7 linked regions of the Homo sapiens genome follow. The protein of the gene in region 3 purifies or fractionates together with the protein of the main gene of each other region. This does not show direct contact. Each region holds a gene or a part of one and is shown on either strand. Other genes may lie near its edges.

What was found.
Region 1: the proteins of GLYR1 (region 3) and PYM1 purify together in Homo sapiens (co-immunoprecipitation; one large-scale study listed by IntAct). This does not show direct contact.
Region 2: the proteins of GLYR1 (region 3) and FNTB purify together in Homo sapiens (affinity purification with mass spectrometry, with the first as the bait; 2 studies listed by BioGRID). This does not show direct contact.
Region 4: the proteins of GLYR1 (region 3) and STK3 purify together in Homo sapiens (affinity purification with mass spectrometry; one large-scale study listed by BioGRID and IntAct). This does not show direct contact.
Region 5: the proteins of GLYR1 (region 3) and ZSCAN5A purify together in Homo sapiens (co-immunoprecipitation; one large-scale study listed by IntAct). This does not show direct contact.
Region 6: the proteins of GLYR1 (region 3) and SZRD1 purify together in Homo sapiens (co-immunoprecipitation; one large-scale study listed by IntAct). This does not show direct contact.
Region 7: the proteins of GLYR1 (region 3) and LYAR purify together in Homo sapiens (affinity purification with mass spectrometry; one large-scale study listed by BioGRID and IntAct). This does not show direct contact.

Annotation. Positions count from the first base shown.
Region 1 is NC_000012.12:55,900,913-55,903,894, reverse strand, and holds the end of PYM1 (partner of Y14 and mago), read left to right. Parts: intron 1-414; coding exon 415-508; intron 509-1,539; coding exon 1,540-2,023; 3' UTR 2,024-2,482; downstream 2,483-2,982. UniProt on the Homo sapiens protein: Key regulator of the exon junction complex (EJC), a multiprotein complex that associates immediately upstream of the exon-exon junction on mRNAs and serves as a positional landmark for the intron exon structure of genes and directs post-transcriptional processes in the cytoplasm such as mRNA export, nonsense-mediated mRNA decay (NMD) or translation.
Region 2 is NC_000014.9:64,993,395-64,996,894, forward strand, and holds part of FNTB (protein farnesyltransferase subunit beta), read left to right. Parts: intron 1-3,500. UniProt on the Homo sapiens protein: Essential subunit of the farnesyltransferase complex. Catalyzes the transfer of a farnesyl moiety from farnesyl diphosphate to a cysteine at the fourth position from the C-terminus of several proteins having the C-terminal sequence Cys-aliphatic-aliphatic-X.
Region 3 is NC_000016.10:4,809,289-4,812,788, forward strand, and holds part of GLYR1 (cytokine-like nuclear factor N-PAC), read right to left. Parts: intron 2,961-3,500; coding exon 2,798-2,960; intron 2,515-2,797; coding exon 2,335-2,514; intron 2,007-2,334; coding exon 1,882-2,006; intron 1-1,881. UniProt on the Homo sapiens protein: Cytokine-like nuclear factor with chromatin gene reader activity involved in chromatin modification and regulation of gene expression. Acts as a nucleosome-destabilizing factor that is recruited to genes during transcriptional activation.
Region 4 is NC_000008.11:98,546,189-98,549,688, reverse strand, and holds part of STK3 (serine/threonine-protein kinase 3), read left to right. Parts: intron 1-1,527; coding exon 1,528-1,720; intron 1,721-3,500. UniProt on the Homo sapiens protein: Stress-activated, pro-apoptotic kinase which, following caspase-cleavage, enters the nucleus and induces chromatin condensation followed by internucleosomal DNA fragmentation.
Region 5 is NC_000019.10:56,224,340-56,227,839, reverse strand, and holds part of ZSCAN5A (zinc finger and SCAN domain-containing protein 5A), read left to right. Parts: intron 1-2,666; 5' UTR 2,667-2,793; coding exon 2,794-3,177; intron 3,178-3,500.
Region 6 is NC_000001.11:16,391,242-16,394,741, reverse strand, and holds part of SZRD1 (SUZ RNA-binding domain-containing), read right to left. Parts: intron 3,368-3,500; coding exon 3,318-3,367; intron 1,515-3,317; coding exon 1,260-1,514; intron 1-1,259.
Region 7 is NC_000004.12:4,280,155-4,283,654, reverse strand, and holds part of LYAR (cell growth-regulating nucleolar protein), read left to right. Parts: coding exon 1-34; intron 35-1,757; coding exon 1,758-1,872; intron 1,873-3,500. UniProt on the Homo sapiens protein: Plays a role in the maintenance of the appropriate processing of 47S/45S pre-rRNA to 32S/30S pre-rRNAs and their subsequent processing to produce 18S and 28S rRNAs. Also acts at the level of transcription regulation.

The sequences.
Region 1 (2,982 bases), on a different chromosome or scaffold from region 3:
TTGACCTATTTTTTTAAGTTCCATCTAAATAAAATTTCTCCTTTACAACATCCGCTATTGTCATTTCTCCTCCCCGTGGTTTTTGTGTCTTTTTAGCCTCTTGTTCATTTACTGCCTTTCATGTTCCCATGCTATTGCCTTGGTTTTTTAACAAAATTCTTCCTCTGTGCCTATCCTGTCTTACCTACAAATAGAATCTTCTTGAGGGCAAGGATGGTTTCTTGTACGGTGTATTGGCACTCGGTAAATAAATAATGAGAGAGGGATTGAGTGTTGGTATGAGAAAAGGAGCCTAATGGTTGCATTTGGATGAATGGGTGCTGAGAGATGGTATGTACATTTATACATTCTTGTCTCATCTTGTAAAATGTTTGAAAATAAGAGTAATTTTCAACTTGATTTTTCTTATTTTAGGCAAGTATATCGCGTCAACACAGCGACCTGACGGGACCTGGCGCAAGCAGCGGAGGGTGAAAGAAGGATATGTGCCCCAGGAGGAGGTCCCAGTGTACGTGGTTAGGCTTTGCGTAGGGGTTTTCTGATGGGGTCCCTACAGAAGGATAGAATATCCTTATGCCTACAAGTTCAGGGAGGACTCTCCTAAGCCCCAAGGAAATGGAAGGAGGGGCAACTATCTGAGAAAGGAGAGAAAGAGTCTGGGATTCAGGGATGAGTGAGGGTTACAGATCACTAGTCCTATACTTTTGACCTCTGTTCATTAGAACCTCCAGAGCTTTAGGTTCTAGGGACTTCGCTGCATCTTTCCTGCAGAGCAGAGGAAAGTTGGGGAGGGACCATAAAGAGAGAAAGGTGGTCAGGCCCAGTGGCCTACATCTGTAATCTGAGCACTTTGGGAGGCCTAGGCAGGTGGATTACTTGAGGTCAGGAGTTCAAGAACAGCCTCCCCAAAGTGGTGAAACCCCGTCTGTACTAAAAATACAAAATTACAAAATACAAACATCAGCCAGGCGTGGTGGCACGAGCCTGTAATCCCAGCTACTCAGGAGGCTGAGGCAGGAGAATCTCTTGAACCCGGGAAGTGGGAGGTTGCAGTGAGCTGAGATTGCGCCAGTGCACTTCAGCCCTGGCGACAGAGCGAGACTCTGTCTCAAAAACAAACAGGCAGGCGCAGTGGCTCTCTGTAATCCCAAGCACTTTGGGAGGCCAAGATCGGTGGATCACCTGAGGTCAGGAGTTGAAGACCAGCCTGACCAACATGGTGAAACCCCATCTCTACTAAAAATACACAGTTAGCCAGGCGTGGTGGCAGGCGCCTGTAATCCCAGCTACCCGGGAGGCTGAGGCAGGAGAATTGCTTGAACCCTGGAGGTGGAGGTTGCAGTGAGCTGAGATTGCGCCATTACACTCCAGCCTGGGCAACTGAGCGAGACTCTATCTCAAAAAACAAACAACCCCACAAAAACAACAACAAAAAAAGGAAGCAAGAATGTAATGAGGATGAAGTGTTTGGAAGTTTAAGAAAAGGGATCAAAAAGTCAGTAATTCTCTGAAACTCTTGACATCCTTTGTTTCCTGCAGATATGAAAACAAGTATGTGAAGTTTTTCAAGAGTAAACCAGAGTTGCCCCCAGGGCTAAGCCCTGAGGCCACTGCTCCTGTCACCCCATCCAGGCCTGAAGGTGGTGAACCAGGCCTCTCCAAGACAGCCAAACGTAACCTGAAGCGAAAGGAGAAGAGGCGGCAGCAGCAAGAGAAAGGAGAGGCAGAGGCCTTGAGCAGGACTCTTGATAAGGTGTCCCTGGAAGAGACAGCCCAACTCCCCAGTGCTCCACAGGGCTCTCGGGCAGCCCCCACAGCTGCATCTGACCAGCCTGACTCAGCTGCCACCACTGAGAAAGCCAAGAAGATAAAGAACCTAAAGAAGAAACTCCGGCAGGTGGAAGAGCTGCAGCAGCGGATCCAGGCTGGGGAAGTCAGCCAGCCTAGCAAAGAGCAGCTAGAAAAGCTAGCAAGGAGGAGGGCGCTAGAAGAGGAGTTAGAGGACTTGGAGTTAGGCCTCTGAGGCCTTTGGGGAATAGGGAATGGACTGCAGAACAAACCGTGGGGCTCTCTGGGGTCTGGGGGAATACGGGCAACAGCAGTCAGGAGGGGTACCCCCCATACTGGCTTACTTCCACCTCCTGCGGCCCAGCTCTGTCCTCCAGAGCCTAGCGTCTCCCTCAATCCTTCCCTTTTCTTCCCAACTTCTACTTTTTGGACTTTCCCCCTCCCATTCCCAGTGTTCAAAATCTCAGTGACTACCCCAGGTACCTTTGCTGCTGATTTGGGTGTCTTGTTTAAAAGAAAATCAGGTGGGTGGGAATCTCTTGGAGAACTGAGGCTGAGGGTAGAGGGAGTATGCCCAAGTCTTGGAGTCTTGGTTCCTGTTCGCGGTGTTTATGGGTTATTTCCCTCTCCATCCCTCATTTTTTTTTTTTTTTTAAAAAAAGCAAAAATGAGAATAAACACAAGTAGACATGTCTGGCTTTGCCTCCTTATTTTCAGCTCCTAGTAGATATTGTATCTCCTGAGTTTGGCACAGGAAGACAAGTATTGGGAGTGATTTCTTTTCTTTTCGAGACAGAGTTTTGTGCTGTTGCCCAGGTTGGAGTGCAGTGACGTAATCTGGGCTCACTGCAAACTCTGTCTCCTGAGTTCACGCAGTTCTCCTGCCTCAGCCTCCCTCCCGAGTAGCTGTGATTACAGGTGCCCACCACCACACCTGGCTAATTTTTTAGTAGAGATGGGGTTTCACCATGTTGGCCAGGCTGGTCTTGAACTCCTAATTTCAGGTGATCAACCCACCTTGGCCTCCTAAAGTGCTGGGATTTTAGGCATGAGTTACTGTGCCCAGCCGATATATATTTTTTTCTTTTTCTTTTTTTGTGAGATGGAGTCTCGCTCTGTCTGCCAGGCTGGAGTGTAGTGGCGCGGTTTCAGCTCACTGCAACCTCTGCCTCCCGGGTTCAAGCAATTCTCCTG
Region 2 (3,500 bases), on a different chromosome or scaffold from region 3:
CCATTAGCCAAAGCAGCCTTAACTGAGGTTGTTTTAGGGTATTGTGTCATCCCCAGCTGGTACTTTGTATTCAAAATAAGGAAATTGCAAAACTTCCTACAGCAAGAGGTACTTTGTAAGTATTTGAATATAAAGTGACTTGTATTTTCTGAGAGAGAATTTTTTTTGAAAAGTCTTGCCTTATATTTCATATATTAAATGACTCTTCTACTGCAGCTTCAATGACATGAATCTTAGGCAGCAAATCTACTTTCTGAAACATTCTGTCTCTGGGAGAGGAGGGAGATATAGGAAGCAGAGAAGTGATAGTGCCTGGTATGAAAGTTGGTGCCTCATGAGATTGGCTTTAGATAGAAGCTGTGAAAGAGAAAGTGCCAAATGCATTAGTTGTTGTTTACCACTTACTGAATGGAAACTATTCTCTGCTTTTATTGATTGGATTTCTTTTTTTTTTTCTTTTTTTATTTTTATTTTTTTTGAGACAGAGTTTCGCTCTTGTCGCCCAGGCTGGAGTGCAGTGGTGCGATCTCCACTCACCGTAACCTCCGCCTCCTGGGTTCAAGCGATTCTCCTGCCTCAGGCTCCCAAGTACCTGGGATTACAGGCATGTGCTACCACACCCGGCTAATTTTTGTATTTTAGTAGAGGTGGGGTTTTACCATGTTGACCAGGCTGGTCTCAAACTCCTGACCTCAAATGATCCACCCGCTTCCACCTCCCAAAGTGCTGGGATTACAGGCGTGAGGTACCATGCCTGGCCTAGTGATTGGATTTCTATTGATTAAATGAAAAACTCCATGAAATACCTTTTAAACAGAGCTGTCCAGAATGCAGGCATTTGGTTAGCTCTTCATTTATTTATTGCCATGGCACCTAAGTGTTGGGGACCCTAGTACAGTTACTTGATCCCTGGCCCCTAGAGTCTAACACAATCTCTCCATTACTGAACAATACAAACTAATATACATATAGTTATGTATCACTTAACAGTAGAAATACATTGTCAGTAGGAAATTTCCTTGTCATGTGAACATCATAGAGTGTACTTAACACAAATGTAGATGGCATAGCCTACTACACACCTAGGCTATATGGTATAGCTTGTTGCTCCTAGGCTACAGGCTACAAACCTACACAGTATGTTACTGTACTAAATACTGCAGGCAATTGGAACACAATGGTAAATATTTTTGTATCTAAACATATGTAAATATAGAAAAGGTAAAGTAAAAATATGTTATAAAAGATAAAAAATGATAGACCTATCTAGGGAACTTAGCATGAATGGAGCTTGTGGGCCTGGAAGTTGCTCTGGGTGAGTGAGTGAATGAGTGGTGAATGAATGTGAAGCCCTAGGATATGAGTGTACACTACTGTAGACTTTATAAACACTGTACACTTGTTACTGAGCAGACATTATGAAAAATAAAAATAAACACGGTATGCTTAAGCTACACTAAATTTATTCATACGCTTTTTTCTTTCAATAATAAATTAAACCTAGCTTACTGTAAATTATTTACTTCATGAACTTAAAAAATTTTTTTACAGCTTTTTGACCCTTTTGTAATAACAGTTTAAAACACAAGCACATTGTACTGCTGTACAAAAATATTTTCTGTATATTTTTATTCTGTAAGCTGTTTTCTACTTTAAATTTTTTAACTTTCTTTTTACCTTTTAAACTTCTTTGTTAAAAACCAAGACACAAACGCACACATTAGCCTGGACCTAGACAGGGTCAGGATCATCAGTGTCACTGCCTTCCATCTCCACATTTCATCCCACTGGAAGGCCTTCGGGGACAGTGATAGGCATGGAGCTGTCATCTCCTAGGATAACAGTGCGTTCTTCAGGAATTCCTCCTGAAGGACCTGCCTCAAGCTGTTTTATAGTTAATTTTTTAAATAAGTAGAGTTACACTCTAAAATAATAATATATAGTATAGTAAACATGTGAATTAGTAATGTAGTTGTTTATTATCATTATCAAGTGTTATGTACTGTACATAATTGTATGTGTTATACTTTTATAACACTGACAGTGCAGTAGGTTTATTTACACCAGCATCACCACAGGCATGTGAGTAATGCTTTGTGCTACAACATCATGAAAGCTGTGTTACTAGGCTGTAGGGATTTTTCAGCTCCATCATAGTCTTAACGGGACTGCCGTGGAATATGGGGTACGTTCTTGACCAAAACATCCTTATGTGGCACATTACTATATTAGTTTATATCATATATGTGTGTATAGTTTATAAGTTGATACATACTTAGTTTATATTATATATTTTAAAGATATATGTGTATATTATATATGTATATATTTTATATATATACATGTGTGCATATAAGTGTATGTATGTATATGTACGTATGTATGTATGTATGTATGTATAAAGCCTGACCAGCAAACTTGAAAACATTCTGTACACAGAAACACCTAGCCTGGGGCTGGGTGCAATGGCTCATATCTGTAATCTCTGCACTTTGGGAGGCTGAGGCACGCGAATCTCCTGAGGTTGAGACCAGCCTGGCCAACTTGGTCAAACCCTATCTCTACTAAAAATACAAAAATTAGCCAGGCCTGGTGGCAGGCACCTGTAGTCCCAGCTACTCAGGAGGCTGAGGCAGGAGAATCGCTTGAACCTGAGAGGTGGAGGTTGCAGTGAGCTGAGATCATGCTATTGCACTCCAGCCTGCATGACAAGAGCAAAACTCTGTCTCAAAAAAAAAAAAAAAAAGAAAAAAGAAAAGAAACAACCAAGCCTGGGCTGGGCACCGTGGCTCATGCCCGTGATCCCAGCACTTTGGGAGGCTGAGGCAGGAGGACTGCTTGAAGCCAGGAATTTGAGACCAGCCTGTGCAACATGGTGAGGCCCATCTCTATTATAAGAAAGAAAGAAAGACAGAGAGGGGAGAGAAAGTAAGAAAGAAAAGAAAAGAAACATCTAGCCTGTGCCCTGTCAGGAGCAGGGGTAAACTCAACTCTTGGGTTCCCTTTTTGCCATATCGTGAGTGATCAGTTGCCTCATGATTAGAGAAGGTGAGAGAGGTACTGTTAGGCTTAACATTTGTTAGGTTATACATTAAATAATGGGAGAGCTGGCCTTGGAACCTAACAGTTAGGTATAACATTGTGTTGATGGGAAAACAAATAAGGTCTAAAAACCAATGAACTTTGAGAACACAGCTTCTGCGTATGTTGTGGCCTGCCTATCTAAGTAGGTGTAGGGGATGAGGTATCACAAAACTAAGCACTTTGAAATCCTTTTCCTTTATTTTTCTAAGAAATTTATGGTTAACAAAAGTATAATAATGTAATTAAGAGCCATTTTTCTATAACTGAGAATTAACATTTGCTAACATCTTTTTTTTTTTTTTTTTTTTTGCTTCTGGTTATTTGTTTAAAGGAAAAGCAATTAGAAATATAGCCAAAGCCTCCTTTAACCCTATCCCCAGTTCAGTGTGCCTGCCACCCTTCCCAGAAGCAGCCCT
Region 3 (3,500 bases):
CAAGCAATTCTCTGCCTCAGCCTCCTGAGTAGCTGAGATTAAAGGTGCCTGCCACCATGCCCAGCTAATTTTTTGTATTTTTAGTAGAGATAGGGGTTTCAACATCTTGGTCAGGAGAATGAGACCATCCTGGCTAACACAGTGGAACCCCGTCTTTACTAAAAATACAAAAAATTAGCCAGGCATGGTGGCAGGCGCCTGCAGTCCCAGCTACTCAGGAGGGTGAGGCAGGAGAATGGAGTGAACCCGGGAGACGAAGCTTGCAGTGAGCCGAGATCGTGCCACTGTACTCCAGCTTGGGTGACAGAGCGAAACTCCGTCTCAAAAAAAAAAAAAAAAAAAATCATACAGGCAGCTGGTTGTGGTGGTTCATGCCTGTCATCCCAGCACTTTGGGAGGCTGAGGTGGACGGATCACCTGAGGTCAGCAGTTCAAGCCCAGCCTGGCCAACATGGTGAAACCTCATCTCTACTAAAAATACAAAAATCAGTTGTGTATGGTGGTGTGTGCCTGTAATCCCAGCTACTCAAGAGGCTGAGGCATGAGAATCGCTTGAACTTGGGAGGCAGAGGTTGCGGTGAGCCGAGATCGCGACACTGCACTCCAGCCTGGGCGAAAGAGCAAAACTCTGTCTCCAAAAAAAACAAAAAAACAAAAAACAAAAAAACAAAAAAAACCCAATACAGGGCAGGGCATGTTCTTTGATCATAGAGCAGTAAGTTAAAAATCAATAATCATTAGATATCTAGGAAAACCCAAACACTAGATAAACTTTTAAGTAATTCATGGATCAAAGAAGAAATCAGAAAACAAATTAACACGGATTAGTGGACATTTAAAGATTTATATACTCATGTTATAAAGAAAGCAGGATTAAAATAAATGATTTAAGATTCCACTTTAAAGGGTTTGAAAAAGAACAAAGAGGCCAGACACAGTGGCTCACACCTGTAATCCCAGCACTTTGAGAGGCTGAGGCAGGTGGCTCTCCTGAGGTCAGGAGTTGGAGAACAGCCTAGCCAACATGGCAAAACCCCATCTCTACTAAAAATACAAAAATTAGCAGGGCGGGTTGGGGCACGCCTGTAATCCCAGGCTACTTGGGAGGCTACTTGGGAGGCAGAGGCACAAAAATCTATTGAACCCAGGAGGCAGAGGCTGCAGTGAGCTGAGATCACACCACTGCACTCCAGCCTGGGCGACAGAGTGAGACTCTGTCTCAAAAAAAAGAAAAAGAACAAAGAAAAGCTAAACTAAGTAGAGGGAAGGAAACGATAAAAGAAAAAGAAACTTGGCCAGGTGTAGTGGCTCACACCTGTAATCCCAGCACTTTGGGAGGCCGAGGCGGGCAGATCACGAGGTCAGGAGATCGAGACCATCCTGGCTAACATGGTGAAACCCTGTCTCTACTAAAAAAAAAAAAAAAAAAAAAAAAAAAAAAAAAATTAGCCGGGCGTGGTGGCAAGAGCCTGAGGCGACAGAGCAAGACTCTGTCTCAAAATAAAAGAAAAAGAAAAAGAAAAAGAAACTGAATGGCTGGGCGTGGTAGCTCATGCCTGTAATCCCAGCACTCTGGGAGGCAGAGGCGGGTGGATCACCTGAGGTCAGGAGTTCGAGACCAGCCTGAACAACAAGGAGAAACCCCATCTCTGCTAAAAATACAAAAATTAGCTAGGCATGGTGGTGGGCACCTATAATCCCAACTACTCAGGAGGCTGAGGCAGGAGAATTGCTTGAAACCAGGAGGCGGAGGTTGCATTGAGCTGAGATCGCACCAGTGCACTCTAGCCTGGGTGACAGAGTGAGACTCCGTTAAAAAAAAAAAAAAAAGAAAGAAAAAGAAACTGAAGGGCCTTGGGGCTTGGGCCACATCTACCCTACCTCATTTGCTGCAGCTGCCATGGGAGTCGGATGGTTGACCGCATCACCCAGCGCAATGGCTAAGCGGAGATCCTTCTGAATGTATTTCAGGTAGAAATCAGGCTTAAAGTTTCCTTGCAGGATATCTGAGGAGAAAAAGCCAGTATCAGACAAAAGCCAAGGACCTGAAACTAAAAACTACTTACGGTCCACCAGGTGTCAGTACCTAAAACATACTCAGGGCTCAGTTCCACATAGCCTAGGCCTCTTGGCTCCTCACTCACCCTTAGACACCTGAGGGCTGCAGCTCCCAGCCTATATCCCCAAATCCCGCCCACTGTGTTTCTGAACCTCCTCTGGCCAGGGTCAGGGACTGACTGGGGAGGGGCATCTTTCACGCTCACTAAATCCCTGACCTAGTACCCTGCTCTAATCAAACACCAAATGCAAGAAGAGGGGCCAAAAACAACTCACTTTGGCACTTCTGGTCCAGGAAGATGCTGGCCAACTGTCCCTGATTGAGGATGTCCAAGAGTGTCTGCTGGGACTGGCCTGTCACCTGGGCCAGGGTCAGCCCCTCGGCAATAGTGGCCATGAAGCTCCCTTGGACCATGTTCACGATCAGCATCATCTTGGCTGCATTGCCCACTTCACCTGCCCAGGGTAAAGACTCACGGTCACAGCCCAAGAATGCCACAGACAGGGCTTCTCTGTCCACCCTCACCTCTGCTCAGACCCACCTCTCTCCAGGGGAGGCCCCCTTCACCTGCCCCCGACAGACTGGCTCTTCCTCCTTCCACGCACTGACTATGCAGGTGAAAGGAAACCTTCCCCAGGGTCCCCGGCAGAAAGGCCGTGTGGGACTGACGCTGTCATCAGTGTGAAACAGAGGAGATGTGGCCCCAGGCTCCAGGCCTGACAGGTGCAGGCGTGTTACCTAGGAAGAAGGAGGTCTTCCCCATCGCCTGGAAGCAGCTGCTGCAGTCCTCATATAAGCCCCTGTCTCCAGCCGCTAAGATCACCAACATCCCGTCATTAGACAGCTGCTGATTCCCTGAGACGGGGGCTTCCAGAAAGCGCCCCCCCCTGGACACAATCACCTGGAAAGAAAAGTCACAGCTTCTGGAGGCCTCCCCTCTCCCAGCGCTCTCTGGGCAGGACTCAAGGAGTGTTGCTGAGTGGCCACGGCTGCTCATCACCTTCCAGAGCTGGAGGGGACGGCCACCCATACCAAGGTCCTTTAGCTGACACCTAAACTCAGGAGCTAACCATGTGCAGGTCACACAGGCCGAATCACAGCAGTGATGAGACGCTGGGGTCTCCACACAGGAACCCAACTGACTTGGAATTTTTTTTTTTTTTTTGAGGTGGAGTCTCGCTGTCGCCCAGGCTGGAGTGCAGTGGAGCGATCTCGGATCACTGCAAGCTCCGCCTCGCGGGTTCATGCCATTCTCCTGCCTCAGCCTCCCGAGTAACTGGGACTACAGGCGTCCACCACCACGCCTGGCTAATTTTTTGTATTTTTAGTAGAGACAGGTTTCACCATATTAGCCAGGATTGTCTTGATCTCCTGACCTTGTGATCCGCCCGCCTCGGCCTCCCAAAGTGCTTGGATTACAGGAGTGAGCCACCACGCCTGG
Region 4 (3,500 bases), on a different chromosome or scaffold from region 3:
TAAAGAGCACTTTTAATTTGTACTTTTATTACTGACTTGATTCTTCTGTGAAACATTTAAAAGCTGAGATTTGTCAACAAAAGCAAAAAATTGATAAATCAGACTTCATCAAAATTAAAAACTTACATCAAAAGACGCTATAAATGAAGTAAAAAGCACACAGAATGGGAGAAAATATTTGCAAATTATATCTCTGGTAAGGAATTAATATCCAGAATTTGTAATAACAACAGAAAAACCAAACAACCCATTTTAAAATGGGTAAATGGATATTTCTCCAAAGAAGATATACAAATGGCTAATAAGCGTGCGAAAAGATTGCTCAACATCAGTAGTCATTAGGGAGATGCAGATCAAACTACAATGTGATAACACTTCATGTTCATTAGGATGGCTATTATTTTTTAAAAATGGAAAATAACAAGTGTTGCCAAGGATGTGGAGAAGTTGGAATCCTGTGCATTGCTGGTGGGAGTGTAAAATGGTATAGCCACTGTGGAAAACAGTTTGGGCACTTAAAAAATTAAATATGAAGTTACCATGTGATCCAGCAATTGTACTTCTAGGTAGATACCCAACCAAACTGAAAATAGGGATTCAAACAGATACTTGTAGGTCAGTGTTCACATTAGCACTATTCACAGTAGCCAAAGGTGTCAACAATCCAAATGGCCATCAACAGATAAATAGGGAAACAAAATGTGGTGTATTCATACAATGGAATATCATTCAGCCTTAAAAAGGAATGAAATTTTTCTACCACAATATGCATGAATCTTGAATGCATTAGGCTCAGCAAAATATATTGTATGATTCCACTTACATGAGGTATCTAGAATAGGCAAATTCATAAGTATAATAGTAATTATGAATTAGTACTATGGTATGAATAGTAGTACTCATGAATTTGCCTATTCTAGATACCTCTTGTAAGTACAATAGAGGTTGCCAGGGCTGGGGAAAGGGGGAATGAAGAGTTCTGTAAACATATAATGGTGGTGGTTGCACAACATTGTAAATATACTTAGTGCTACAGAGTTATACACTTAAAAATTGCTAAAATGGTGAATTTTATATATATGTATTTGTATATTTTGCCATAATTTAAAAGAAAAAGCTAATGGCTGTTTTACAAGGTTATAGACATCATTATGCCCATTATAATACAAAGTGTCAATGTGTTCTGTCTTAAAGGTGCTCTCATATATATTTAGTTGTTTTGTCACCATATTCTTTGTTATGCATTTGCTGATAGTTTACCTATCTTAATCCTTATTTTAAAAGCAACTAGCAGCCTTCTACTTCATCAGTTTCTGTTGCTTGATCTGTAATTACCTAAAGCTTTAGGTTATTTTGAATAATTTTCACTCTTAAAATAACATTTGTATGTATGTATTTATATTAAAATCAGTACTAATAGTATTTTTAATAAGTATTAAAACTATAATATATTCATTCTCTTGTTAAGAATTAAGAAATCCAGCTGTCATAGAAAAGTCTTCCCTCATTGCAGTATTTTGCTTGCAGGATGAAGATGAGCTGGATTCCCACACCATGGTGAAGACTAGTGTGGAGAGTGTGGGCACCATGCGGGCCACAAGCACGATGAGTGAAGGGGCCCAGACCATGATTGAACATAATAGCACGATGTTGGAATCCGACTTGGGGACCATGGTGATAAACAGTGAGGATGAGGAAGAAGAAGATGGAACTATGAAAAGTATGTGGCTTTTTTACATTAAATATTAGTTTTCTAATTCGAAAGGATACTTTTATAGGAACCAGGCTAGTTCTGTGTTACTTTTTATAGCCAACTGTGGAAAATTTTGTTTCTTAGATTTATGTAACAGTAAAAAAGAGTATGGCACAAGTCACCTTTTTAAAATTGTATTTTAATATAGCAGAAAACAACACATCTTCAACTTAGAGTTATGGAACTTTTTTCTGTTGAAGGTTGCTAACCCACGGCTTAATTTGCAAAGTATTTTAGAGAGAAAAAGATAGTGTTCCTAACATTTACTTTCCCAATTAAAAAAGTGAACCTAAAATTATCTTCCAGTAAATTCAACAGACTATTATTTTATGTTGTCCAAATTATCAGTTAAACCACAAAGAGCAGTGCGAGCTATGGGAAGAAATAAGGTGGGAAAATAAGAAGCACTAGAAAGAAGGATTAAGAGACAGGGATGCTCATACAGAAGATTCAGTTGCATGAATATTTACTGCTGCTTATCATATGTGAGGCACAGTGCTGGGGGTGCTGCAGTGGCTAAAATGATGATCAAACATTCTCTCTGACCTCTGTTGCTTACAAAGTGATGACAATAGGAATGCTTTCACAGACTAGCACTTCTCTTTTTTAAAAACAGTTTTTTAAGATACTGCAGTTAACATCGTAGGTCATTGTGATTTCACAGTTATAGGCAAAAATGAATTTTCTCTTAGCACCAACTGACCTTTTTCTTCCTGTCATGCTCCTACCCTAGTCCTGTGTGGTTAGTGTCAAAGTCTAAGCAAGCACTAGGCTGCTTTCCACTGAAGAGTATTGCCTCTCCATGGCAGAACAGCAGAATTACATGACTTCTAGCATTGTAGAACCTAGAAAATTGTAAATATTCAAGTGATTTGCTGGTACTGCAAAATGGATACCAGAATTTTCTCTCAGATACTTCCATTTCCTTTTTGCCCACCCTTTTCTTTTTGCTACTCCGCCATGAGGTCTGACCCATAACTTCAAGTCACGTGGCTCAGTACTGCTGCTTTCTTCACATTCCCTAGTTCTGTGTAGCCCACTATGGTTGCATATGTACTTTGGATAGAGAGGATCATGAAGCACAAAATGTAATAGATTGCTATATTGCCATAATCCTGGGGGTGGAGTATGAATTTTCTATCTCCTGCCATTGGTGGGTCTTCTGTGCCTTTTTCCTGGAAAGCAGCCTACATCTTGGATTTCCTGAAATTCCTAGCTGGGCATCTGACTAGAGTAAGTTTTCTGCATCCATAACGTGCCTCACTCCACTGCAGAGGATGGTCTTATGGCCTCCAGAACCAGCTAGTGTTGGGGTACAAGTGGATCACAAAGACTCTGTGGTAAAACAGTTAACACATTTTTCATCAACATGTAATATCAATTTTCCATAAGCTGATATAATTTTTAACTCAAATTTTATGATTCTTAACAGATCAATTAGATCATTGAGTGCTTTTTTGTGTCTTTAGGGAGTTACTGAGCTCCTTATGAAACTATATGAACAACTTTTCATGCAGTCATATAGTTGAACATCAGCATATATATAATAGTTAAGAAAAATGAGTCTTTATAGAATCTAATTCATTTAGATTGCAGTGTATTATATTTCAAGGAAGAGAGACTAATGATGATGTTTCCGACATCATACTTTATACCACAGATTTCTGACATTTTGTATAGTGACTTTTAGATTTGACATCCACAAAAATCAATACATGTTATAATTTTGTTATAACTGATTGTATAG
Region 5 (3,500 bases), on a different chromosome or scaffold from region 3:
TCTAGCATGTTCCCATGTCGGTCTTCCAACCTGTTAGAATTACAGGCCTGAGCCACTTTGCCTGCCACACACCCTTTTTAAAAAGCATTGCTGGATTTTCCCTTTGCACAGGGTGAAATCAAATCATTGATGAATGAGCATCAACCTACTAGGCCAATGAGAATCTGAGCTAAGTGTCCCTACCTGGGTGACCCGTGTGGTATATACTCCCAGAATTGAATACTAACTCCTGTGTCTGCCTTTATTTTTTCCTGTGTCTTGTTTCTTACTTTAACGGGGAATGAACTAAGATCAAATACAAAGTGATTTCTAGGAACATGAAACCACTTTCTTTTTTAGAGACAGGATCTCACTATGTTGCCCAGGCTGTTATCAAACACTTGGGCTCAAGTGATCCTCCCACCTCCGCCTCTGCCTCCTGAGCAGCAGCAGGCGCCCTCTGGCAAAACCACTTTTAATTCCAGAATTTCAGGCTCCCTTTTCTCTATCATATCTGTGTGCTTTTTCAATAAAAATTAATTTGCTTCTAATTGAAAACTAAAAATTGTATATATTTATGGCATATAGCATAATATGCTTTGTAGTATTACAAACATTGTTAAATGGCTAAATTGAGCTAATATTCATATGCCCTACCTCATGTACTAACCATTTTTGGTTTTGAGAATACTTGAAATCTAATTTTTTTTAAGCAGTTTCCAAGTATACAATACATTGTTATGAACTGAAGTCACCATGTTGGACAATTGCTCTTTTGAATTGATTTCTTCAATTGAAATTTGTACTCTTTGACCTATATCTTCCCAACCCCTACCCCAGCCCTGGTAACTATTCTACTCACTACTACTATGAGTTCCACTGGGTTTTTAATTATTATTTATGTTATTTACTTCTTTTTAAATTTTTTTTTGTAATTTGAACTTGTGTTTTAGATTCAGTGGGTACCTGTGCAGATTTGTTGCATGAGTATATTGAGTGATGCTGAGGTGTGAGGTATGACTCTACCCATCACCCAGGATATGAGGATAGTACCCAATAGGTAGTTTTTCAACCCTCCCTCCCTCTATCCCTCCAGAGTTTCACTGTTTTGGAGTCCACGTCCTGATTTCCTTTCCTCTGTGTACCTGCCCCGGAGCGGGATTGCCGGATCATGCAGTTGTTGGACTTTCAATTTTCTGAGGAGCTTCTATACTGTCTCCCATATCGGCTGCTCTAATTTACATCCCAGCACAGGGCGCAGAGGACCCCTTTCCCCCAAATCCTCACCAACACTCGTTCCATGTGTCTTTTTGGGAACAGCCACTCTAGCAGGCGTGAGGGGTGCCTTGTGGTTTGGATTTGCATGTCCCTGATGATGAGTGATAATGAGCACCTTTTCCTAGACCTGCTGGCCATTCACATGTCTTCATCTGAGATGTCCACACAGGCGCCTTAAGCCCTTCTAGTGGGTTATGTGTTTTCTCGCTCTGGAGGAGTTTGAGTTGCTTATGTTTTGCACAGGAGCCCCGTGAGATGTGTGGTGTGTAAATATTGTCTCCTCCTCTGGGTTGTCTCCCGCCTCTGCCGATTGTCTCCCTGGCTGTCTCTCTGTTCTGCACTTGCTCAAAGTCCTTCCAGGAAGTGTGGGGCACTCGCCCTCCAGGCTACCAGTGACTTTTCCCAAGACCCTTCTGCCAGTTTTTTCTCCCCTCTGCAGACCTTCAGGTTGCTTCCCCCACCTGTGTCTAGGAAAGCAGGGCTGTGTTCTCATAGCTGTTGAACTTGGACGATAATTGATGCCTGGAGAGTATCACTCAGTGGCTCCTGCCTAATGAAGCTAGGTTTAGGAATTAATTTTTAAAAATCTTATTATTGTATCAACCCACTTCTTTAAAATATCAAAGAGCACTAGACTTTAAATCCATTTTCTGAGATGAGATTAGGAATACAGAAACCCTTAGAGACAGAAGGTAGATTAGTGATTGCTAGGGGCTGGGGTGGGTGGGCAGGGGGTGATCACTGATGGGGATGGGGTTGCTTTTGGGTTGATGAGATAATTCTGGAAGTAAACAGTGGTAATGGTTGTACAACATGGTGCATGTCTTAGTCCCATAAAATCGTGAACTTGAAGAGAGTAAAAAATGATGAAATTTATGAATGTACATTTTACCAAAATAACAAAATATCTGTGTAGGTGCTTAATCCTCATAGGATCCTTTAATGCTGTCCCTTCCCTGGAGCAAGTAAATGTTCTGGAGTTAACAAGAATATGTGTTGGGGAAAATATTACATTCTAACTCTTTTTCTCTATCCTTTTGCATAATTATGACTAAGGGCTTTGCCTTGGATCTTGTCCTGATGGGGAAACATAAAGGGCTTACTTTATTGTTGCATCACATTTTCAGAGCTTCACCTAACTATCTTATTTAATTTATAGTCAAGAACAATGTTGTTCCAATTGACAGGAAAACTGATTCAGCCTCTGCACAGTGATTTCCTAGAGATCAGAATCCAGGGGTCATTAAGATTTTAAACCAGAGTATGTAGTCAGGTATAGACACTGGAAGATTTCCACTGTGCTGAATTCGATGCTGCTGAAGAAGTGGCATCCAGGATGAGGGATTTCGAAGGGAGGGATGGATGGAGTAGTAACTTAAACTAATGAGGCTCATACTTTTCCCCCCCAGACTTCTGAATGAACAGTGAATCTATTACTGAGGAAAACCAGAGGAAGCCTGTGTAGATAGGTATCAATTAGATACCAGCTACTGGAAGAGCTTTCTCAGAGACTGATTAAAAAATTCTCCACTAGATATGGCTGCAAATTGCACATCCTCATGGAGTCTAGGAGAATCCTGCAACAGACCTGGGTTGGAGCTGCCACGGTCTATGGCATCCTCAGAAACTCAACTTGGAAATCACGACGTGGACCCTGAGATTTCTCACGTGAACTTCAGGATGTTCAGCTGCCCGAAGGAGTCGGACCCCATCCAGGCTCTGAGGAAACTCACTGAGCTGTGCCATCTGTGGCTGAGGCCCGACCTCCACACCAAAGAGCAGATCCTGGACATGCTGGTGATGGAGCAGTTCATGATCTCCATGCCCCAGGAGCTCCAGGTCTTAGTCATGATGAACGGTGTGCAGAGCTGCAAAGACCTGGAGGACCTGCTACGAAATAACAGAAGACCCAAGAAATGGGTGAGTGGGACCCTCGTGATTGGTGCAGGGAAGGGGAGCTGGGATGGGGGCTGCACGGTGCAGCTGGACTCGAGAGGACCCGAGGGGCTGCTCTAGGTCAGGGCTTCCAAGTAGAGGAGAGTTTGCCCGTCGGGGACACATGGCAGTGTCTGGGGACAGTTTTTGTTGTCAGGGAGGACAGGAGACGCTGCTAAGCGTTCTCTAACGCTCAGGACAACCCATCATGACAAATAATCATCCAGATTCCAATATCAGCTGTGCTGAGACGGCAAGTTCCTGGTGTAGGAGATGGACAGGCAGAGGGGGTACAGGGACCCACACAC
Region 6 (3,500 bases), on a different chromosome or scaffold from region 3:
CTCAAGTGATCCGTCCACCTCGGCCTCTCAAAGTACTGGGATTACTGCACCTGGCCTAGATGTCCCCCATCTTAAAATCAACTGTCCATATAGCTGGGCCCACGTCACTCTGGCTCCGCAAGCCTGCTTCTTTGGGAAGCTGACTCAGGGCACCTCCAAGTTGAGAGGCCCCTGTGAGCAGGCAGGGTCGGTGGTGCACATTCACCTCTAGCAGCTACAGCATCCTTTCCCCCTGCTCAGCTGCCATCATGCACTTGTAGGCAGGGGGAGTGCTTGAGGGCCCACTCTGCCCAGAGGCAGTGACCATGGATAGCACATGCTCCGCAGAACCATTTGGAATCTCCAGAGTGTTAGGCCAAAGTAAAGAACTGGAATCAAGAGCTCAGCAGAGGGACACATCCCCCGCCCCCCAATTCTTCCCTCCCACTCCTCTCCAAACTCTGCGGTTAACGGTTGACTCATATGACTATTTTTCCACCCTGGAAAGGTGAAGACTTAGAGGAGAAACAACAAAAAGAACAGGTATCTCTTCAAAATTATGAAGAGCTAGAAAGAAGGTACGCAGATTTTTTCTTCAAGTCCCAGAATACCAAACCATAGCAGCCCCTCAAAGTTAGAAGGAGGCCATCTTAATGAATACTGTTTGATTCGAAAGTGATAAACTTATATGATGCAACCTTTAATACTGCAGAGAAAAAAATGTTAAGAGTAAAAAGGAATTTAGAAAATTCACAAAAACATCACAGTGGGCATACTGGAGACCCAGAAAATATCATCAAAGCACTTATCTGGGGTACTTTCCACTCTGCCAGCCCAGGCTCTCCACATCCTATGCTCATTTACTCACTGAATTGCACAACACCTTGATAAGGTTGGTACTATTATTATCCCATTTTTTCAGATGAGAAAACTAAGGCCCAGAGAGGTCAAGTCGTTCTAAAGAAGAGGTAAGAGGCAGATTTTGACACAAGCTCATCTGTGCCTTCACTCTCTACACAACAGTGCCCCCGGTGACTACCAACCGCAGAGGGAGCATGCCAGCAAACTGCCACCTCCTCCCTGGCAAGGCTTTCAGAGCCCTCTCCAGCCAATGCGGCACAGTGAACTAGTGCCAGCAGGCTGGGATCAGCAAGTGGAGCTGCATGGTTCCTACCCTGACTCTGCTTGCTTCTCACTACTCTACACGCAGCCAGGATGCTCTCCTCTTCCCGGGTGGACTGGGACAGCCATCACTGGCCGGCCCTGCCAGCCACACTCACCTGTCGAGGATGGGTTTCTCCTGCTCCTCCTCGGGGCTGGCGCTGCCCAGGATCCGCTTCCGGGCCTCGGCGTACTCGGCCTCTCGCTGTGCTAGGGACTTGACTGGAAGGGTGGGCCTGCTGGTGGAGTTGGGGCTGCTGACCACACCGTTGCTGGTGGGCCTCTTGAGGATGCGGATCTGTGGAGGGGGCCCCGCGGGAAGGCTATCGTCCTGAATCACAATGGGCACTTTGGGAGGAGATTTGGATTTCCTGCTGACAAAGAGCAAACACAGCTTCACAAATCATGCTCCTGACTAAGGAGGCCCTGTCCATGTCCCACACCCACCTCTCATCACTTTCCTCTCCCTCCCTAATTCTACCCATGCATGATTCTCTGGCCTCTGACCAGACAGCAAAATTTCCACTCCTCAAGAAGGGTGTCCCAAAAAAGTAAGCTTGCGACCAGCTCTGACAGGCCACAGGAACTGCTCCTCAGCCCTAACCCCTGGCCACAGGGGCTGGAACGCCACCTCATTCTGGCACTTCTATCCCCATGTTCACCACAGCCACATCAACCACTATTTGGCCCTGCAGCAAAACAGTTTATGTCCAGAATTGAATGACGTCAGTTAAGATCCCAGCTTCTCTACGCAGATCAGAGTAGGACTGGCTGGTGGGGTGGGAGCCTTTGAACTTGGGGGTCAGCAGTGTTCACTCAGCCAAATCTTCCATCACATGCTCAAACCAGACAAACACTACAAAGGAGCCCACTACGCCATCCCTGCCTGGCATCAAGATTTACCAAGCCACCTTCTAGTGAGAGTGACCTGTGCCTCCCAGAGACAAGCTACACCAGACAACTGAATCCTCTTCAAAAAGCTTCTGAACAGAGAAACCTCCCTTGCCAGGGCTCCCTGGTCTTTTGGACAGCGGCGGGGCTGGAGTGAAGGATGCTCCTAGAAACAGTGCTTGGCAATGCTCAAAAGAAAAGCATTGTCCAAGGCTGGTGGACGCGTACATCAAGGCGATGTGTCCACAGGGAGAGGTGGAATGACAAAAAACAAAGAGGGACAACAACACAGGAAGGGAAAGAAACAAAAGCCACAGGAGGAGACAGGAACCCAGGCAGGAATGACCACCCGACAACAGCCACCAGGACCCTACCCAGAGCAGTCAACCAGCTTCTCTTCAGAACCAAACAAGCCTGCTTCCAGAGCCTTGGCTGTCAGGAGGAGTCGGGATTGGAGGAACTGAGCCAGGGTGGATGGAAACAAGTCTCGGGTAGGACACAAATGGTATGGAACGAGGACTGTAACCCAGGGTTAGCGTGGTTGCTGAGATGAGCAGACAGACAAGGAGCCAGCAATCTGATCAAAGAGGCAGGGAGCCAGGAAAACTAGCGGGCGGGCAGAGCACCCAGAGTTTCCTGGGGAATGACTGTGCAGCCCCGTGAGCAAATCCAGAGGGGCCCTATCCTCCTTCCTGTCCCTTGTACCTATGGAAAACCAACAGGTTCCCTAAGCCCAAAAGCAGAAAGCCGAAGTCAACTTTCACCTACTCTGGAAACACCCTCCTCTGTCGTCTAGGTGGAAAACAAAGCTATTTTTAAAGGTTTTTTCAAGAATTTCCTAGAATGTTTTCTTCCAGGATACCCTCATAATACCCTAGACCACCAAGTCACTGGGGACCCAGAGAAATCATCTGCCCACACTCCTCATGCCACAGAGAAAGAAACTGATGTCCAGATCTGGGAAATGACTTGCCCCAGACCTCAGAGCAACTGGGGCACTGCCAGGCCTAAAACTCAAGTCTTCCAACTTGTCACTTCCTCACATTGCATCAGATGACCTCACACAGGGAGCCCACGAAGGTCAGAGGCAGGTGCAACACCCCAGCCTCAACCCTAAAGCCTCAAGCCACCACGTCCTGGTCTCCAATTTGGAGGGAAGGGTTTGCTGCCCCAGAGCCTGACCTGCTAGGACCTGCTAATCCTAATGGCCAGCTGGAGAACACCACTGACTGCCCGGCTCTCAAACCACAGAGAGCATGAGCCCTCAGACCAGACAGCAGCCTTACCTCTCTTTTTGTGTGATCTTCAGTTTTTTTTCCAACCGTCTGTCTATTTCCTAGAGGAAAAAAATGTATATAAAAAGAGGAAAAAATCTCTCTCAAATAAAAACTTAGTCTTTATTTTTGGAGCTAAGGGCAGTGTCCTTTCTCTAGCCAGGGACATGACTGTGTCCTTCAACATAACAAATG
Region 7 (3,500 bases), on a different chromosome or scaffold from region 3:
GCCTTTCTTGCATTGACTGCGGTAAAGATTTCTGGTAAGCTTCACAGAATTCATGTAGATCCATAGTAAATCCAGATCAGTTTTGGAAGCCTTGGCGCCACAAAGCTTGGAAAAATAGTGGCAAATTTGAAGAATGAAATTAAGACTAAAAACTGGTATGTTCCATTGATTAAAACTGGTGTGATTCTTTCAAATGTGCTTTACTAGGCCGGGCGCAGTGGCTCAGGCCTGTAATCCCAGCACTTTGGGAGGCCAAGGTGGGTGGCTCATGAGGTCAGGAGTTGAAGACCAGCCTGGCCAACATAGTGAAACCCTGTCTCTACTAAAAATACAAAAATTAGTCAGGCGTGGTGGTGGGCGCCTGTAATCCCAGCTACTCGGGAGGCTGAGGCAGGAGAATCGCTTGAACCCAGGAGGCAGAGGTTGCGGTGAGCCGAGATTTCACCACTGCACTCCAGCCTGGGCAACAGAGCAAGTTAACCCCTTCTTGGGGGGGAGAAATGTGCTTTACGAAACAATTTGCTTTTTGAGGATATGTTAAAGAAAAGACTAGGGGAAGGGGAATTATGATGATTAGAGTGTTCAGTCAGTTGGTGACACTGGTTGCTATTGCATTGCCACTGTTTACAGACCCAGGGAACTAACTGCGTGGAAGATGGCTCCAGGGGTTTAGAGCCAGTTTCATTAGACCATGGGTATCACATGCCCATCACAGTGGAGAGATGGACTTATGAACCAGAAAGTGAATTTATGAGCTCACAGTGGGGCAGATGACTGGTAGCAGAGGAAACTATGTCCTCCCTAGAAAATCAGAGGTGCTGGTGGAAGTGAGGCTCTTCCTGGCCCCACGGGTGTGTCAGGAGACACTTCCACTGAGGAGGCCTCTGTGAATGTGAGGAGTTAGCGGGGAGGGACAGGACAGATCCTGCCTTAGACACCGGTTCTTCAGGTGGGTCGTTTGCAGAGGGCTCCCCTCTTGAATTTCATGTTGATTCCCCTTCAGCCTCAGAAGGTCCAGGCGAGAAGCTGGCTTCTGGCTGCATCTGCCCCAGTGTCCTCTGAGGCATTCGGATGGTACTGGCTAATACTCTCTTTTAATTCATTCTGGAGCAGTGATTTTTTTTGGAAACTGCTAACCTCTGTTCAGACGTAATCCTAGGAGGAAGCTTGATATATAAAGTAGGTTAAAATTGAGTTTTCATTAGGGGACTTTGCCCTGGACCTTGTCCCCAACATTTCCCTGAAGAACCCCATAGAGCTTTACAAAGATTATATGAGAGAGAATTTAGTTTTCTTTTTTCTCAGGACCCTAAGGGATCCAGAACTGTTGGTAACCTCATGCTGCCATTTTATATCTGTTTTTGATTTATTCTACAACTAATTATTGACTGTCTATTAGACATTGAGATTTTTATAATTTAAAAAAACTACCCTATTGCATAGAACTATTTTCTTGTTTATTCAGTATATGTACACTTATGACTTAAAAAAATACTGCCTATCAATTTAGCTTAAGGTGTTTATAAAAATGGGGGAAAAGTTTGGTGATGGGTTTTATATTGACGACTTTGGAGGAAGGGGGATGTGGTTCTGACCAGGAGGCTGTAAACATAATAAGTGAAATAGATGGGGTGCTTGTGTGATAGACACATGTGAAAATATACAGTGTAGACCACAGAAGATAGTGGCAGCATGCTGGTATTAGCGCCTCCAACTTGGGTATCAGTCTAATGGCAGAACTTTTGATCACTTTAAAGGGGCGATGACTATAAAAACCACGTGAAATGCATAAGTGAAGATCAGAAGTATGGTGGCAAAGGCTATGAAGGTAAAACCCACAAAGGCGACATCAAACAGCAGGCGTGGATTCAGGTAACGTCTCTCTAACTCATTGAGTAGCTTCCTCTGACAGCTTCCGCTTTCTTTGGAAGCCCAAGAGACTAAGAGTAAATGTGTCATCCCTGCAGACAAGCTCTGGAAACCTCATGTCCTAGGATAGACAGGTTGAACTAAAACCTCTTGAAAAAGAATTCTTTGGCTGGGCATGGTGGCTCACGCCTGTAATCCCAGCACTTTGGGAGGCCAAGGCAGGCGAGTCACGAGGTCAGGAGTTCAAGACCTGCCTAGACAACGTGGTGAAACCCCATCTCTACTAAAAATACAAAAAATTAGCCGGGCATAGTGGCGGGTGCCTGTAATCCCAGCTACTCAGGAGGCTGAGGCAGGAGAATCGCTTGAAGCCAGGAGGCAGAGGTTGCAGTGAGCCGAGGTTGTACTGGGTGACAGAGTGAGACTCCGTCTCAAAAAAAAAGAAAAAGAAAAGAAAGAAAAAAAGTTCTTTATTCTTCTAGCTGTTAAAACAGTTGCGGTGCATTATACCTTTAATCCATGTGTTTTGTTAATTTCTTGAAAAAAAAGTTTTAGAATTCTCATTAGCTTTCCCTTGGCTGTAAAACTAAATGGAAGCTTCTAATCTCTCCCTGCTTCTAGTGATAATGGAGCTTTTATAACTCAAGCCATGTTAATCTGTCACATCTGCCAGTCATTAGAATTAGGCAAAATAAAGATACTTTCGTCAATGCAGAGAATTTTCTACTTAACTAAAACAGCATGAAAACATGCACAGTAGAAATGGCAGAAACATTGACTCCCTAATTCACTGGGAAGTATAACTCTCAGAATGCTACTGATCATTTACAGAATAGGTAGCAGGAGGAAGGATTCAGAAAGGAAGGTGGGATAATGAAAAGACGGATGTCATCTATTGAAAATTCTGTGTTTTTCTAAAAACCAATAAAAAGTAATCGTTCCATTTGATAATAGAGTTGGAACGTGAATTTTTCAGACATTAACTAGCTTACTGAATGAGCATACTACTGGGAGGGTATTTCTGTTCACAAAGGACTTACTAGAGCAGATTGAGAAGCTAATGAAATCCTGTTTGCACTGGTGACCAGCAGCCACACTTTTGAGCACTCTCTGTAATTCTCTAAAAACCAGATGACGTTCCTAGACCCTAAGGTTGAGGTGCATGGGTCTGTGAGTTCCGTCTCTGCTGCTGTCACACTCGATGAAATCCTCTGAAGCAGGGGTCAGCAAACTACAGAAACTTATTACAGCTTTGTAATAAGTTTTGAAATCAGAAAATATGAGATCTGCATTTTTGTTGTTCTTTTCAAGATTGTTTTGGCTATTTGGTATCTTTTGAGATTCCCTGTGAGTTTTAGGATGGATTTTTCTGTTTCTGTAAAAACGTATATATACACACACATTGGATTTTGATAGGAATTGTATTGAATCTGTAGATTGCTTGGGTAGTATTAACATCTTAACAACTTTAAGTCTCCCAGTCCATGAGTACGGAATGTTTTTCATTTATTTGTGTCTACTTTAATTTCTTTCAGCAGTGTTTTTTGGTTTTCAGTAAACAAGTCTTTTGCCTCTTCAGTTAAGTTTATTCCTGATTATTCTTTTTGATGCTGTTGCAAATGGAATTGTTT